Regions from separate parts of the Homo sapiens genome. Here region 2 is linked to region 1. The links come from fine-mapping of genetic effects on gene expression. Tissue or cell type: whole blood. Region 1 holds a variant in brackets; the other region holds the start of a gene. All regions are shown on one strand. Distances are between the middles of the regions.

Region 1 (8,103 bases):
GCTGGTGTGAGGCTGAAAATGTACCTAGAATGGGTCGGCTGCCTGGGAACCTCACGAATACTGATCCCCAGGGACTGCGTGTCTCCCTCAGAACTGGGGCAGCTTTCTACTTGCAGAAGATCATGACAAGGGACTTCAGCTGGGTGGTGGCCCTGGGATGTCACTTTCCTTCCCACTTAATTGCTTTGGATTTCTCTTTCCTTTCTCGTCATCCCCCAAAAGTGTCTTTGCCTTTTTTTTTTTTTTTTAGCCCTGAGCCCCAAGCTCAGTCCTTACATAGATTGTTTAGGAGACCAGTAATCCCTAGTTCCTTTGACTTGCAGCTCAGCCTCACTCTGTCCTTTACTTAGGACATAAGCTAAATCTACATACCCTTCCTACACCACAGATAGAAGATATGGAGGGAAACCTTTTTCTCCAGGTCTGTTTCATGTTGTTGAAAACCTCAAACCTTTTTCTTAGGAGAGAACCTCTGTTTCTAAGCAGTGGAATAGAATTGCTTATGGAATAGCCAGGTCATAGGATGTGATAATTTCCCTGGAAATCAGAGGGGAAAAGAAGCAAAACATGGAGCCAACTCAGACTAAGAAAGCTCCATGAAAGTTTATGCCAGTGATAACCTCCAGGCCCCAGATCTGCTCAGCTTGGGTTCTGTGAAGTCTTGACCCCAGCCATCACCCACAGCCACATCTCCCAGCCTCCTTCAGCTCTTCCCCAAAGGCTTAGGAGGTGTTAGCACTGGCTGCCTCAGGATGATGGGGTCCCTGCACTTCCATGCTGTGTAGGTTGAGAGAAGGAGGTATGGGCACAGGAGGAAGTGATGGTAGATTTCCACTGTAGTTATTCCCTTTTTTTTTTTTTTTTTTAAGACAGTCTTACTCTGTCCCCCAGGCTAGAGTGCAGTGGCACGATCTCAGCTCACTGCAACCTCTGGGTTCAAGTGATTCTCCTGCCTCAGCCTCCTAAGTAGCTGGGATTACAGGCATGCACCACCACGCCTGGCTAATTTTTTGTTTTAGTAGAGATGGGATTTCACCATGTTGCCCAAGCTGGTCTCAAACTCCTGACCTCAAGTGATCCACCCGCCTCAGCCTCCCAAAGTGCTGGGATTATAGGCATGAGCCACTCTGCCCAGCTGTGGTTATTCCTAAAGGCCAGTGGTGGGGCAGGATAACAAGGACAGCACCAGAGTGGGGAGGGGTGAATGAACCTACAGCGTCCACATCATTGCTTCCCTCACAGAGTATGTTCAGCCACCAGTTGACAGTGGGCGGGGGCTGCCCAGCCTGTCCAGGAGCTGGAGCACACCTGCATAGCTTTCAGATCACACAGAGGTGCCCTGCTGCAGACGCTCAGGCTACATCCGTTCTAGTGGGTGTGTTTGAAGGTAGACATTGGGAAACTGGCTGGAAGGTGTCCGTTTTAGAAACATGGAGAACGAATTCTTTCACTGGGTAGGAAGTTTGATGACATTGTCTTCTAGGTCACTTCAGACTCTGAAGAATGTGAGCTCTAAAACTTTCACCAAAAACTCTCAGCAAACTCAAGCTAATGGAGTTAGTTGGATTTCTAAGGAAAACGCTGTCCTGAAGTTGAAGCTACTGGGTGTAAGACTAAAACTGAGGCTCAAAAAAAAAAACACCTCAGTTAATTCATCTTTCTTTCTCAAGATGCTATTATTAAATGAAACCAAAACCCAGTTGAGATAACAGATAGAAAACTCAACCAAATAATGAATGAAACTGCCTTAATGGAGTGGCCAACTGCCCTGGTTTTCTGCAGGACTGAGGGGTTCCCAGGGTGCAGGACTTTCATAGCTAACATCAGGGAAGTCCCAGGCAATCTGGGACCTGGCCGCACTTGCTGCAGTACTGACCGCCCTAACAGCTCCTTTATCTCCACTTCGCATTTTGCAATGATAACCCTAAACATTTAAATAAGACTGACACGGTCAAAGCAAGCACGCTGGCTGATGCTGCTGCTCTGCGGTCTACATTTTTGTGTCTTTGAAAAATTGTATGTCTCCAAGACCTTTAAAAAGCCCTAACTGCTTAACTTTCTTGGGGGAAATATATATGAGTGTCTCATGGTTTTCAGACACTTTGCTGGATCACAGTTCAGGTGGATCGAGGGCAGCCTGTTCTAAGACCCTGAGAGTCCCTTTCTGTGGACTTAAATGTGAGCCTTAGGGAGCACCTTGATAGAAAAATGGAGGCATAATGAGAAAGAACTTGGACCTCAGGGCTTCACAGTTCAGCGTGGCCACCTATTCATCTTCCATGTCGCAAGCACGGCCGTCGAGTGCAAGGCTGCAATTCCCTGCTGACAAAGATGTGTGCAGTGAGATTCCTAAGTGGACCTGGAAGGATGAGCTGAGTGGCCTCACGGTCAAGCCAAGGACTTCAAGGTGCCCCTGTCTAGGAAAGCTCACCAGTGTTCCGGTCCTGGCTCTCTGGGCTTCCTCAGGAGGTCGTTTGGCAGCTGTGAAACTCCTCCCCTCCGGGCCATACCTGGCAGACGTGCATGAACTGGTCAGACTTTTAAAAAACCTCCTTCTGGCCAGGTGTGGTGGCTCACACCTGTAATCCCAGCACTTTGGGAGGCTGAGGTGGATGGATCACCTGAGGTCAGGAGTTCAAGACTAGCCTGGCCAATATGGTGAAACCCCATCTCTACTAAAAATATAAAAACTAACCAGGTGTGCTGGTGGGTGCCTGTAATCCCAGCTACTTGGGAGGCTGAGGCAGGAGAATTGCTTGAACCCAGGAGACGGAGGTTGCAGTGAGCCGACGTGGTGCCACTGCACTCCAGCCTCGGCAACAGTGAGACTCCCATCTCAAAAAAAAAAAAAAGTCCTTCTTAGATTCCTTTCCATTCTGCATGTGCCCACATTAAAACAGCTGTGGCTCTGTCATTTCTCCCTGACCTGCAATACTGGAATTTTCCTTCTTAAATTTTCCTCCTTTAAAATTGTTAAAGAGCTTTTCTTCTTTTCATTACTAGGCAGGTTAATTTCTATCTGAGTGGCTTGGACTCTCCTGCAACACATAAACCCTTTGATTCTGTGTGTCGTCAAAGTTTGGTTTTGTTCTTTCAAAGCCAGGGCAGCCAAACTTGGACTCTCTAAAATTATCATCAGAATGCAGATTTCAGAAAGTTTCTAGTTTCAAAATCAGACAGAAGACCCACTTCTTTACTGATGTAAAGACAACAAAAAGATCTGTGATGATTCCTAAGTAGGTATTTTCCTCAAAAGAAATCATTCAAGAAAAAAAAAAAAAAGATTGCTATGAGAATAGCAGCTCGTGGCTGTGCTCAGTGCCTGTAACTGCCTTTGTAAATACACGAATTCCTCACATAGGACTGCAACATTTTACTTGAGGATTGAAGATTCACGAAGAATCTGTGATCCATCTCTTCACCCACCTTCACTGTCTGCTAGGATGGACCTCAGACTTCTTGAGGTCGTGAACATTCATTTACACTCAGAGAAACTTTTCACTGGTTTCCCCAGAACATTGAAACAGTCAGAATAACTCCTGTGCAGGCTACTGGACTGACAAATGTGAAGGCCAGATTTTCAGATGTGAAGCTGGGAAGACCAAAAAGACAGACCTCCCTTTCTTACTGAGAAGAGCGTAGTCAGACATGTCAAGTCTGGCACGCTGCTGCAGAAGGCGTGATTCATCTTAAGATCAAAAATTATTTCATCTTGCTTTCTTGGTCATAAGCTAAGGTGCTTGGAGCTGTCCTTTGGCCTTTCATGTGCTGTGTCTGTGGTGCGGGTGTGCTGTGTCCTCATAAGGGTGCGCCATGTCTGTGGCGTAGTGTGCACCGTGTCCATCATAAGGGAGCGCTGTGTCTTTGGCGCGGGTGTGGCGTGGGTGTGCCATGTCCATCATAATGAAGCACCATGTCTGTAGCGCGGGTGTGCCATGTCCATCATAAGGAAGCGCCGTGTCTGTAGCGTGGGTGTAGCGTGTCTGTGGCGCAGGTGTGCCGTGTCTGTGGCATGGGTGTGGCTTGTCTGTGGTGTGGGTGTGCCGTGTCCATCATAGGGGTGTGCTGTGTCTGTGGCGTGGGTGTAGCGTGTCTTTGGTGTGGGTGTGCCGTGTCCATCATAAGGAAGAGCTGTGTCTGTGGTGCGGGTGCACCATGTCCATCATAAGGGTGAGCCATGTTTGTGGCGTGGGTGTGGCATGTCCACGAGGGTGCACCATGTCTGTGGTGCGGGTGTGCCGTGTCCATCATGAGGGTGCGCCGTGTCCGTCATGCAGATGTGCCTTCATGGCCCTCCCTGATTCCCAGGCCCCATCTAGTGTACATCATTGCCTCGGGTGAGAATGTCCCTTTCTGCCCCATCTAG[T/C]GTATGTCATTGAGGAGGAGGGCTGTGTTCCCCACAGTCTGCCCAGGGGCTGTCATGTGAGTGGCACATAGGTATTGCTTAGTACACACCGGTCACAGTGACTTGAGTGCCACCACAATGAAGTTTCCAATCGTGTGACTCCTTCAGCATCTTTGCTCCTGAACTTCCTGGACTCCAGCCCTCAACATTGACAATCCTGGCTGTGCTCTACAGATTGTGGTATGATTGAGACTAACAGTACTCACCATGTCTTACAACATGACCTCCCTAAACTGACATAGGGTTGGGTGAACACACACACACACACGTAATCACTGCCTCACGTGGCATTATTACAAATGCTGCAAAATCTAAACACATCACTGGAATCCAAAAAGCAATCCATTTAGAGGCATATGAGGAGATTGTACGGATATTAAAGAACAAAGATCTGGAACTATGGCAACAAACCAACGTTGCTGTTCTAGCCTGAGCTGCCTGTTTTAGGCAAATGGGAATGCTTTTGGAAACAATATGAACCGCAACGGGTATTTCTGCAAGTTTCTAAGACTGGCAGGAGTCAGCTCGGGGGAAGCAGGAAGAATCCCCAGTTGGTTGGCTATTCTTGGGACCGAAGAGATAATCCCCATTGAACAGAGCCTACACTCACATCCTTGAGTCCGTGATGTTCTTCGCTTCCCTGGGAACAGCCAGAGTCCAGCTTTCCGTGTGGATTGCTTTCACAGGGATATCTGGCCCTTCAAGCCAGTGGTGTGAATGTCACCCCAAGAACCTTGACGTGTAGATACTGCCTACTTCAAGTCATACTGCAGCTCTGCCTCTTCCCAAGATAGGATTTGAAGCAGCTTCCAACAGAAAATGGATGTGAAAATGTATTGTGAACACATGCATAGGACCATACATACATCATACACACACACATACACACACACTTAAACATACACATGCACATGTACACACACACACACAGCTATGGGCACAACTTCATTTCAACTTGTAGATTGTGAAGTAAAGGCATTGGAACTTTGTGGCTTGCAAATCTAAATTACCTCCTTCCATCTTAAGATCTCTTCCCTCCTTTATTCTAAAGTGTGATTCGGCTCCTCTCTTAGCTGATCCTTCTGGTGTGCAGGTCAAAGAACACTGAGCTGGGAATCAGTTGTGGTTTCCGATTCTGCCGTTGCCCCACCCGCTTCCATGTTGGTTCCAACGTGGCTTTGTGGAGTCCTGGGACTCAGGCACAGTGTGAGAATCACTGAGCCTCTCAAGGTCAATTATGCAGTGATTGCTTGGTAGCTCTTCTTCCTCCACCCACAGCCTCGGCCTCGGCCTCCGTTTTCTCTTCCTCCTGGGAATTCATCCAGAATGACGCCAGAAGTCACACAGAGGTGATCTTGCAGACCATACTCCCCTGAGTGTGCAGGCCTGCATTTTTGCTCAGTTCAGCTAGCGCAGTGGCCTGCTCATAAAGTTTTCCAAAACCTGTAGGCTGTATGAAGAATAGCGGTTACTCCTAAGCTGCTTTTAACTTTCACCTTGTGATTCTCATCATATTTTTGTTGATTTCCCTCCTTTGAGTTCTTTTATGTATTTCCATGATGGAGAAGATCCCCTCTCCCGCTTGGTTGATGTCCGTGCCCCTGCTCTTGCCCCAGCTTGCCTCCTCAGACTGGCCTCTCACCTGCTTCCTGCTCTATCGCTGTCTTTGTTTTCTTTTAGTTTCTCATACTTGCCATGTTATCTGGCCTCCGGGTCTTCACAAATGCAGTTGCCTCTGTTGAGAATGTTCTTTTCTGCCCCATCTCTTTGCCTCACTAACTCCTCTTTCCAATCCTGGCTTAAATGCTACTTCCTCTTGGGAGTTTCCCCACACTCGGCCTATTTGGGCACCCATGCTGTGTGTGCTCTCACGTTACTCTATTGGGCCATCTCTCTGATTCTCCCACAAGACTGGAAGCTCCTTGAGGCAAGGATGTATATGTCACCAATGTATCTCTAACATCTGGAACACTGGCTTGTTGGATGGATGGATGGATGGATGGATGGATGGATGGATGGATGGATGGATGAATGGAGGCACAATTAGCCCATATGCTTAACCTTTCCTTAAATGTGTCGGACTAGAGTTCCTAAAACCTCGTGGAAGGAATCCACCATGCAACACTTTTAGGAAGCAGAAATATGTCTCAGCCATATTCTGGCTCCATTTGCTGCAACTTAAAGAAGGATCTTGATGGGAGAAAAGCTTCAGGATTTTGTTTGTTGCTTTTTTCATTTTAATTGTAAAATACATACAACATTTGCCACCTTAATCATTTTAAGTATACTGTTCAGTAGTATCATATACGTTCACGTTGTTGGGCAGTCAACCTCCAGAACTTTTTCATCTTACAAAACAAACTCTACGCATAAACACAAATTCCTATCCCCCCTCCACTCAGCCCCTGGCAACCAGCATTCCAGTTTCTGTCTCTATGAATTTGTCTGCTCTAGGAACCTCATATAAATGAAGTCATATGCTGTTTGTCTTTTTATGACTGGCTTGTTGCATTTAACATTATGTCCTCAAGATTCTTCCAGTTGTAGTGTGTGTCAGAATTTCCTTCCTGTTTGAGGCTGAGTAATATTCCGTCATATGTACACACCACATTTTGTTTGTCCATGGATGGACACTTGCTTTCACCTCTTGGCCACTGTGGACAATGCTGCTAGGAATGTGAGCATACAGATAACTCTTCAGAGCTTGGGTTTTAAATGTAAAAACTGTAACATGGGAAAGCTACAGAGTATGGCTGAATATTAAACCTGCCTAACCTTACCAGCACTCTGGTCATGGTACATTTGCTGGGCCCAGTCCTGACCACAGTGAACTGTGCAGGCTTCATAACATGCATGGTGGTCTGGAAGCCATGTGATAAGAAGAAGAAAACCACCCAGCAATGACATGGTCACATGGGCTCTCCTGGAGTTTGCTAAGCACCTGGGTGACCTGGGAAAGAACTTTGTCATTCATGTGACCTGTTTGAAAGAATGTGATCAGTTGTTTCTCCCATGTGTCAACAGTTCCAAAGCCAAGGAATTAGGCCGCCATAAAAGTAGAAATGTTTTCAGGGCATAGTGACAACTTTTGTTGGAAATGGAGCCTACTAAAAACTCACTGGTGTTACACCAACACAGAAAAGGACTCTGTATCAAAGTCTATTTCTGTCTATGTAATTCTTTCTTTGTTTTATATACCCTCAGGGTTTGGAAATGTTTGGGATTTAAAAATAAAAGGGCCGAAAGCTATCCTCACGACATTTCATTATTGATGTTGTTGACACACAGTGAATGGAAGCAGGGTGAGACTGGACAAAATAAAGTCCTCTTATTTCTTTTTTTGTTTGTTTTTTGTTTTATTTGGTTTTATTTGTTTTTTTGGAGACAAAGTCTTGCTCTGTTGCCCAGGCTGGAGTGCTGTGGCGTGATCTCAGCTCGCTGCAACCTCTGTCTCCAGGGTTCAAGCAATTCCACCATGCCCGGCTAATTTTTATATTGTTGGTAGGGACAGGGTTTTGCTATGTTGGCCAGGCTGGTCTCAAATTCCTGACCTCAACTGATCCGCCCACCTCGGCCTCCCAACCTGCTGGGATTACAGGCGTGAACCACCACGCCTGACCAAGTCCTCATGTTTCTAAAAATTATACCACTAAATAGTGTAGATCCTACCTAACCTATTTTCAACATTGAAAAATTCT
Region 2 (8,103 bases), 400 kb before region 1:
ATAAATGAACAAATGAATGGGCTGATCATTCAAACCATCTTTGATATTTCTGGGACAGAAGACGTTCACTACTTTAAGGCTTGGCTTGCTCTCACAGTGGAGTTTTCACTCAGAGCTTATAAGTGCCTGGAAGGACCGTCTCACACACACACACACACACACACACACACACACACACACACACACACACGGCTAGAATTCTTGGCTCTATTCACAGAAGATAAATCTGCAGCACATTCCTGGTAAATGTCACTGGGTCCCATGTTGCTGGAGAAACTTCCATTTTAATTCAGCAAATCTTTATTAGGCACCTACTATGTGCCTGGCATGATGAGAGAACAGCTCTTACCATAGGAGAGATATTGTTGATTAATTAATTTATTGAACGTTTGTTGCATTATAATGCTCCAAGCCCTGTGCAAGAGAAATATGGTCCTTGTCTTCATGACAATTATAATTTAATGGGGAAGCTGTTTGTTTGCCAAACATTTATTGGGTAGCTACTATGTGTCAGCTACTGTTATAGACACTGGAATAGAATGGGGAGCAAAACAGACAAAAATTAATCCTGGCCCTTGTGGAGCTTATGTTTTAATGGGGGACACAAACCATACACAAGATAAATAACTAAAGTATATGGTGAGTTAGACGGGAATAAGTGCTAAGAAAAACATAAAGCAAGTGCATTAATCTCCCATTGCTGCTATAACAAATTAGCACAGATTTAGTGGCTTAAATGACAAAAATTTATTATCTTATAGTTCTGGAGGTCAGAAGTCCAAAAATGGGTCAATAGGGATGTGATCCTTCTGGAATCTCTAGGAGAGAATCTGTTTTCTTCCATTTTCCAGTTTGTAGAGGCAGCCCACATTCCCTGGCTGGTGGCCCCCTCCTGCATCTTCAAAGTCAGCCCAGCGGCATCTTCCAATCTCTCTCTCTCCCTTGCCTTCCTCTCCTCTCTCTCTCTCTTACACCTGTCATCATATCTCCTCTGATTCTGACCCTCCTGCCTTCCTCGTATAAGGCCTCCTGTGATTACACTGGGCCCACTCAGATAATCTGGGATAATATCTTCATCTCAAGGTCCTTAATTTAATCAGACCTGTAAAGTCCTTTGCCACTTAGACTAACATATCTACTTGTTTCAGGGATTAGGATGTGGGCATCTTAGGGGACCATTATTCTTTCTACTGTGGCAAGGAAGGGGGACATGAAGTGTTGGGGAACAGGGATGCCATTTTAGAGAAGATGTTAGGGAAAGTCGCATTGAGAAGGTGGCTTTGGAGCAAATACATAAGGAAACAAAAGTCCTGGTGAAGGGGTCAGGGAGACAGAGAAGCAGATGACAAGGGTGGGGGTGTGATGGGTATATTTAGGGGGCAACAAGGAGGCCAGTGTGGCCGAAGAGGAGAGAACAGGCTAGAAGTAGAGATGCTGTGGCGAGAGAGACAGTCATAGGCTGAATTATGTCCCCAAAATTCATATATTAAAGTCCTAACTCCCAGTACCCCAGAATATGACTATATTCAGAAATTGGACCTTGAAAGAGATGACTAAGCTAAGACGATGTCATTAGGAAGGGGTCTAATCCAATATGAATGGAGTTCTTCTAAGAAGGGGAGATGGGGACACAGACACACAGAGGAAAGACCCTGTGAGAACACAGTGAGAAGGCAGCATCCACAAGCCAAGGGGAAACCAACCCTGCAACAGCTTGATCTTGGCTCTTTGAGCCTCCTGCATTTTGAGAAAATGGATTTCTGTTAAAGCCATGCAGCCTGTGGAAGTTTTTTTTGTGTGTTTGTTTTGTTTTGTTTTTTTGAGAAGGAGTCTCCCTCTGTCACCCAGGCTGGAGTGCAGTGGCACGATCTTGGCTCACTGCAAGCTCCACCTCCACCTCTCGGGTTCACGCCATTCTCCTGCCTCAGCCTACCGAGTAGCTGGGACTACAGGCACCCGCCACTGCACCCGGCTGATTTTTTTGTATTTTTAGTAGAGACGGGGTTTCACCATGTTAGCCAGGATGATCTCGATCTCCTGACCTCGTGATCCGCCTGCCTCGGCCTCCCGAAGTGCTGGGATTACAGGCGTAAGACACCACGCCCGGCCTTTTTTTTTTTGAGATGGTCTTGCTCTGTCCTCCAGGCTAGAGTGCCGTGGTATGATCACAGCTTACTGCAACCTTGACCTCCTGGGCTCAAGCCATCCTCCCTGCACAGCCTCCGGAGTAGCTGGGACTAGAGGCTCACACCACTGTGCCTGGCTAATTGTTGTATTTTTTGTAGAGATGGGGTTTCACCATGTTGCCCAGGCTGGTCTCGAACTCCTGGGCTCAAGCAATCCTCCCAAAGTGTTGGATTATAGGCATGAGGCATCATGCCAGGCCTGTGGAAGGTTTTTATGGCAGCCCTTGCTGGGTAACACAGGTACACAGGTAGAGACACCAGGCGCCTTTGCTCTGGACTATATTCTCAAGGATGTTTGCAGAGCAAACAGCCTTGGAAGACAGAGATAATGTTTTCTGCCACAGTCAAGGGTAGACATGCTTACTGTCCATGATAAAAACAGTGTCTCCCTCTGGAGTGAAGGGCAGACACACTTACTGCCCGTATGAAAGATCTGAGCTCTCTAAGCTAAGGGTTAAAAACTTATAAAACTCGTATAGGGCAGCTGACTCCAAGTACAGGCTTCACCTGGGCCTCATGTTGCCCGTGGGAATTGGGTCTCAGTAAACTGGTGCATGAAAATGCTGATATTCCAGCTAATGCTACTATTATGAATAACAAAGTCCTTTGTTTCTGATCTGGGAGTCTCATGTCTTCTGCCAGCATCCATGAATTGTGGCAGGCTAACTTGTTAGCTTACAAGTAGGGGAATAGCTCAGCCCCTGAGCAGCTCTTGATAAGAGCTCATGCCTGTGGGGCGAGGCCAGATGGGAGTCATTGGAGGGTTTTGAGAAAAGGCATGACAAGTCCGGACGTAGGTTTTGTAAGTTTCACCAGGTAGGAAGCAGTGAGCTATTACAATTGTTAGATCTAGTGATGGTCCAGCTAGATGATCCTGACTTCAGCCGAGTGGTGAGAAGTCGTGGGATTCTGGATCCTCTGAAGGTGGAGCTGACACCATTTGGGATATGAGAGAATGATAAGCAAAAAGGACAGCACTGAATTTTTCGCCTAAGCAAATGGTGGCCTGGAGTTGCCGATGACTGGGATGGAGAAGATTTTTAGGAGATGTAGCCGGAAGGGATGGCAGGAGTTCAGCTGGCGACATGCTGGACTTAAACACCAGCTAGGCTTCAGGAAATGTTGAGGATGCAGGTGGATGTGAATTTGTTATTCAGGGGTGAGGTCACAGCTGGAGATACATATGAGCTTCATTAACCTGTGTATGATATTCAAAGCCATAAGACAGGGGCGATCACAGCAAATAGCAAAGAAAAGAGGCCTAACCATAAGCCCTGGGGCCCTCCATATTTAGAGGTTAGGGGAGTAGAAGAAAACCACAAAAGGGACAGTGAAGCCAGAAACACAGCAGGAAGCCCTGGTGAGCACTGGGAGAAGGGGTTTCCAGGAGCGCAAGTGATCAGCTGCTGCTGATAGGTCAGGTTTGGTGAGGCCACATGCCTGCCTCTTGGTTACTAGAGTTACTTATGCGTGGACAGCCCGAGGCATGGAGTGATGACCTGTGCCTAAGTGTCAAGGAGAAGACAAGCAGGTCCGGAATGGTAAAAATGTCAGCACATCTTTGGGAAGTTGTGGAGCCCAGCCAGTAAGCCAACACGGCTGGATACCAGGGTGCTTAGGCCATAGCAAACTGCATGTGAGCCGGTGAAGGCTCAGCAGGCTTTAAACGGGGATGCCGGCCCGGCTGGCTGAGTTTCAGAAAGACCACGCCGATGGCTGGGGGCAGGGACTCAGCCAGTGTCCTCAATCCAGGACCTTGTGGGACCGCCCGGCAGCCAGTGCTTCCGCAAATCTGAAGGGTCCCATTTGCCTCAAAGCGGCGAGACGAGCCTTCCAAGCGCTGCTGCAGTGCGGTCCCAGCTCCGCGGGGGGTCCCCGGGGATGACCTAAATCGGGGATTGCGGTGGGACAGACGGTCCAGGGGCTAAGGAACCCCGTGGAGCAGGCAGCGGCGCTCAGGAGGCAGCAGCTTGAGATCCACGGCTCGATTTTTAAAAATTGTAAGGGAGAAGGATGCCTCGAAAGCCTCTGTGGTATTTTGTCGCATCTCGCACCCCTGTCTAAACTTCAGTCCACTCGTGGAGTGTGGACCCCCACGCCGCATGGGCTCAGGAGGCGCTTCGCCTTTGGAAAGAAATCGCATGTATTAAGGGAAAGCACGTGTGCTACTTTGAGAAAGGAGGCAGAAAGTTACCAAACGCGGGAAGGGGAGGCTCGCCAACCAAGCGAGGCCGTGGGACACTGGCGAGTCGCAGAGGCTCCTGGAGCCAGCCGCTTGGAAACAAACAACAACGCGGCGGGCGAACTCCCGGGCAGCCTCCCCCGTGCCGGGGCGCGGGGGCCGCCGCGAGAACCCGGGCAGGAGCTGGCAGGCGCGGGGCCTGGCCGGCGGGAGGGTCCCGCACCCCGGCCCAGTGTGAACACCCCGCGCACCCCCCTGGCCCGGCCCGCCGGGGGCGCGGACTACAAGTCCCAGGAAGCCCAGAGGCAGGCGCGGGGCGGGGCCTGGCGCAATTCCCCGGGATCCGGCGCGCTGGGAAGCGCCGAGGAGGACGCAGCGCCGGCGGCCGGAGGGCGGCAAGCGCGCGGGCAGGCGGGGCGCGGGCGCGGGCGCGGGCGAGGGCGAAGGCGGGGGCGGGGCCGACGTGGGCCGGAGCCCTGCGTGCCAGGGAGGGGGCCGGCCGGGCAGGCGGCGGGCGGCGCTCGGAGCGGGCTCCGCGGCTTGCAAGGCGCCTGCGACTCGGTCCCAGGTCGGCGGGCGGCGCACGGCGGGCTCGCGCGGGGGCCCCGGCGCGCCGGGCGGCGCAGTACGCAGCGCGCGGACCCACGCCACGGCCAGGAGCCCAGAGCAGCGCGGCCACACTGCCCAGGGGTCGGCCCTCGGCCCCGGCGCTCGGAGCGCGGCGGCTGCCTGGGCTTTAATGGCTGCTCCGCGGAGCAGCGCCTAGGGCTGGAAGGCGGCTGCGGCTCAGGAAGTCACCCGAGCAAGCCTCCTTCGGGGCCGGCCGCACCCGCCGCGGCGCGCTCCATGGGGGCGCGCTCCCCCCGGGCGGCCCGCTGACCCGGGACGCCGGGGCCCGCTCGCTCGCCGGCCGCGCGTCCCGGCCATGAACTGAGCCCGCGGGCCAGCCCCGCGCCTGCTCCGCCCGCGCCTTTCTTCTCGCGCCTCCTCCGCCCGCCGCCGGCGGGCCCGGCTCCCCGGGGGCTGCGGCGCCCCGGGCTCGGCGGCCCGCGGGCCCCGGGGCGCGGGGCGGCGGCGGCGGGGGGCGCGCGGCTCCGGGCGCGGCGCCTGCACCATGAACTACCAGCAGCAGCTGGCCAACTCGGCTGCCATCCGGGCCGAGATCCAGCGCTTCGAGTCGGTCCACCCCAACATCTACTCCATCTACGAGCTGCTGGAGCGCGTGGAGGAGCCGGTGCTGCAGAACCAGATCCGGGAGCACGTCATCGCCATCGAAGGTGAGGGCCGGGCCGCCTTGGGGCCTCGGGAAGGCACGGACGCCCGCGGCGCGGCGGGGGTGTGCGCTGTGTGCGTGCGGGTGTCCACACACGCCGGCCGGGGCACGCGGCTGCTCCGCCGAGGGAGCACTGCGGCGCTGCTTGTCTTGCAAGGCCGGGCGAGCGTCGCCTGCGCCCCGCCGCGCCGCGAGCTCCGCCAGGAAGATAGATCGTCAGCGTTAATTTGATCGTGGACAATAGAGTCTCTCCTGCGGGAAAGTGGCTCGGTGCCTCCGCGTCCTGGGCTGCCGGAGCGTCCCGGCCCAGCAGACGCCTGGGGGCAGCCGGCGGGGTCGGCGCCACCCGACCCCTGACAGGTTACCAGGCCAGGCCTGGGCGTCTTGCTGGACGTTGAAGACGTGTTCTGAGAAGTGCTGCCGCTGGGGGCGAGGCCCGGGCCGGCGTGTTTGGGCGGTGCAGGGCTGCCCTCCTTAGTGTGTTTGCTTAATTCAGGGGTGCAGTTGAACTTAGTGGATGCCGAGAGCCAGCCCTAGCCGCGGGAGCATCGTGTCCAGGTGCCCCTGTGCAAACGCTGGAACCGGTAGTGTGCTTTGTACCAACCAAAAGTCCGGGGTTGGATTAGAGGAAGAACCCTACCAGGAGGGCAGGGCGTCCTCCAGCGGAAGGGTCTCGCTTTCATATGTCTGCAGTTGGAGGCCACTGAAGTGGAGGGTGCTGTGGTTTTAAGAGGGGCAGGATGCTTGGGCAGAATCCCCACCCGCTTCCCTCTGCATGTCAGGCAGGGCCATGGCCTTCCAGGAGAGCTACAGCAGCAGTCTGCCTTCCGGGGCTGTGCCCTCTGGATTTCTGGTGGCTCTCATTTCTCTGTTTCCAGGCTGCTGATTTATTTTCTTGCTTCATCCCTTTGGTCCGGCCAAGACTCACCTGGGGCACCAGGTGGCATGTGCGTGGACAGTGTGGAGTCATATCTTAGCCACAGTTGATCAGCACTTTCTCCCTTCTCAGCGCTGTTGGCCAGTGATGGTAAAAAGCCTGCAGAGTGGCTTGTCCATAATACAGACTGGCCGGTAAGACCTCTATTGAGGAACATTGAGAATGGCCCAAAGCCGGCAGGAATGTGCCTGAAAGCCTGGTGCTGGCGTTGCCCAGCCTCCTCCCTCTGTGAGGGAGAGGGTATCAGCCCACAGAGAGGCTTTGCCTTGGCACTATGTAGTCTGAACTACTAACCCCGAAGTGCTTTGGTTTGAAACTTGGCCAGTTAGGTGGAGAAAGTGGATGTTGTGTTGCTGAGCCCTTGGCATTTGGCAGCCCTGTAGACTTGAACCATGTCCCAGCCAGGCTGGATGACTGGCAGACTATACCCTTGGGGGACTTGTTAATTCCAGGGGAGGATCCGGGTGGAGCTCCAGCCTTATGGGGTCCTAGCCCTTTGTGTGTATCTGTCTCCCATGAGGTCACCTGGCTGCCTTGTTGGTGACTTAAGATGCTCTGTGGATTCCTCAAGAGATGGGCTCTGTCTGCCTCTGCATGACTCGTGATGAGTGGCGGTGGGACCTGGACCCATCTGCTGATGATCAGGTGGTGTTGCAGCAAGGTTCCTCCAGAGCTCCAGCTCTGCGTCTGTTACGGGAGCTGTGAAGGCTGCACGGTGCTCATTTCAGATGGTTCTTCCTGGCTCTCTGGCTGCATCCACAGAAGTCTGATGAAACACTGTGAAAGCCGGCGTCAGGTATTGAAGGCACCTGGCTGAGAGCCTCTTTTGCTGCATGAAGACCTCTGGCTGAGTGGGGTTCACAACACCTCGTTTTTATTTCCCATTCTTGAAGCTGAGCTCTGGGGCTCAAGCACTTCCAGCAAAGCAGTTTGACTTTCTAGCAAGAGGATGTGGTTGCATTTTCCTTTCTCCCTTAAAAGAAAAAAAAAATGCGTCGTTCCTAGATGATGGTTTTTTTTGACAGCACGATGCCTACCTTTGCGATTTGAGATTTTAGGCCCCTTCTTGGCCGGGATCCTTGTCATTTTTAATAAGGCTTAGAATCATTGGGTGAATCCTGTTTGGGACTGGGGTGATGCTGTTATTTTTCTCTTAGAAATAGGGATGTCTACATTATGTGGAGCTGTAGTTAATTTAGTGAGGCTTAAGAACCACTCAGACATGCTGCTGTTCTTTGCATGTTCTTCTGTTATCAATAATGATACCACTTTTCATTTCTGTAGAACTTTAACAGAAATATTTTTGCATGTATAGTCTCATTGTGTGGCTTCACCAACCCTGTGAGGGTGGGTGGGTAGCTTCCTCATCCTCATTTTATGGAGGAGCGGGTGGAGGTTCAGGGAGGGATAATGACCTCCTTAACATTTGACTGAGGTGGTTTGAAGTCTGATCTGAACCAAGGGATCATTTGAATGGAGTTTCTGTCTCCACACTGCATGTGGATGGCAGGAACCCAGTGCTGGC

The links. PIP is the estimated chance that this variant, and not a neighbour inherited with it, causes the effect.
Region 2: it holds the start of AGAP1, and the variant in region 1 is fine-mapped to the expression of AGAP1 in whole blood (TOPMed, PIP above 0.99).

The regions. Positions count from the first base shown.
Region 1 is chr2:235,889,315-235,897,417 of GRCh38, forward strand. The region is part of intron 10 of AGAP1 (ArfGAP with GTPase domain, ankyrin repeat and PH domain 1); the gene reads left to right. Among named protein-coding and RNA genes, the nearest start is that of GBX2-AS1, 270 kb to the right of the region's middle. RefSeq lists an enhancer at 3,580-4,080. The variant T/C (reference allele first, on the strand shown) is at 4,367.
Region 2 is chr2:235,489,205-235,497,307 of GRCh38, forward strand. AGAP1 (ArfGAP with GTPase domain, ankyrin repeat and PH domain 1) reads left to right here and starts at 4,839. Exons shown (of 18, transcript NM_001037131.3): 1 at 4,839-5,645. The coding sequence starts at 5,483. RefSeq lists an enhancer at 6,093-6,966.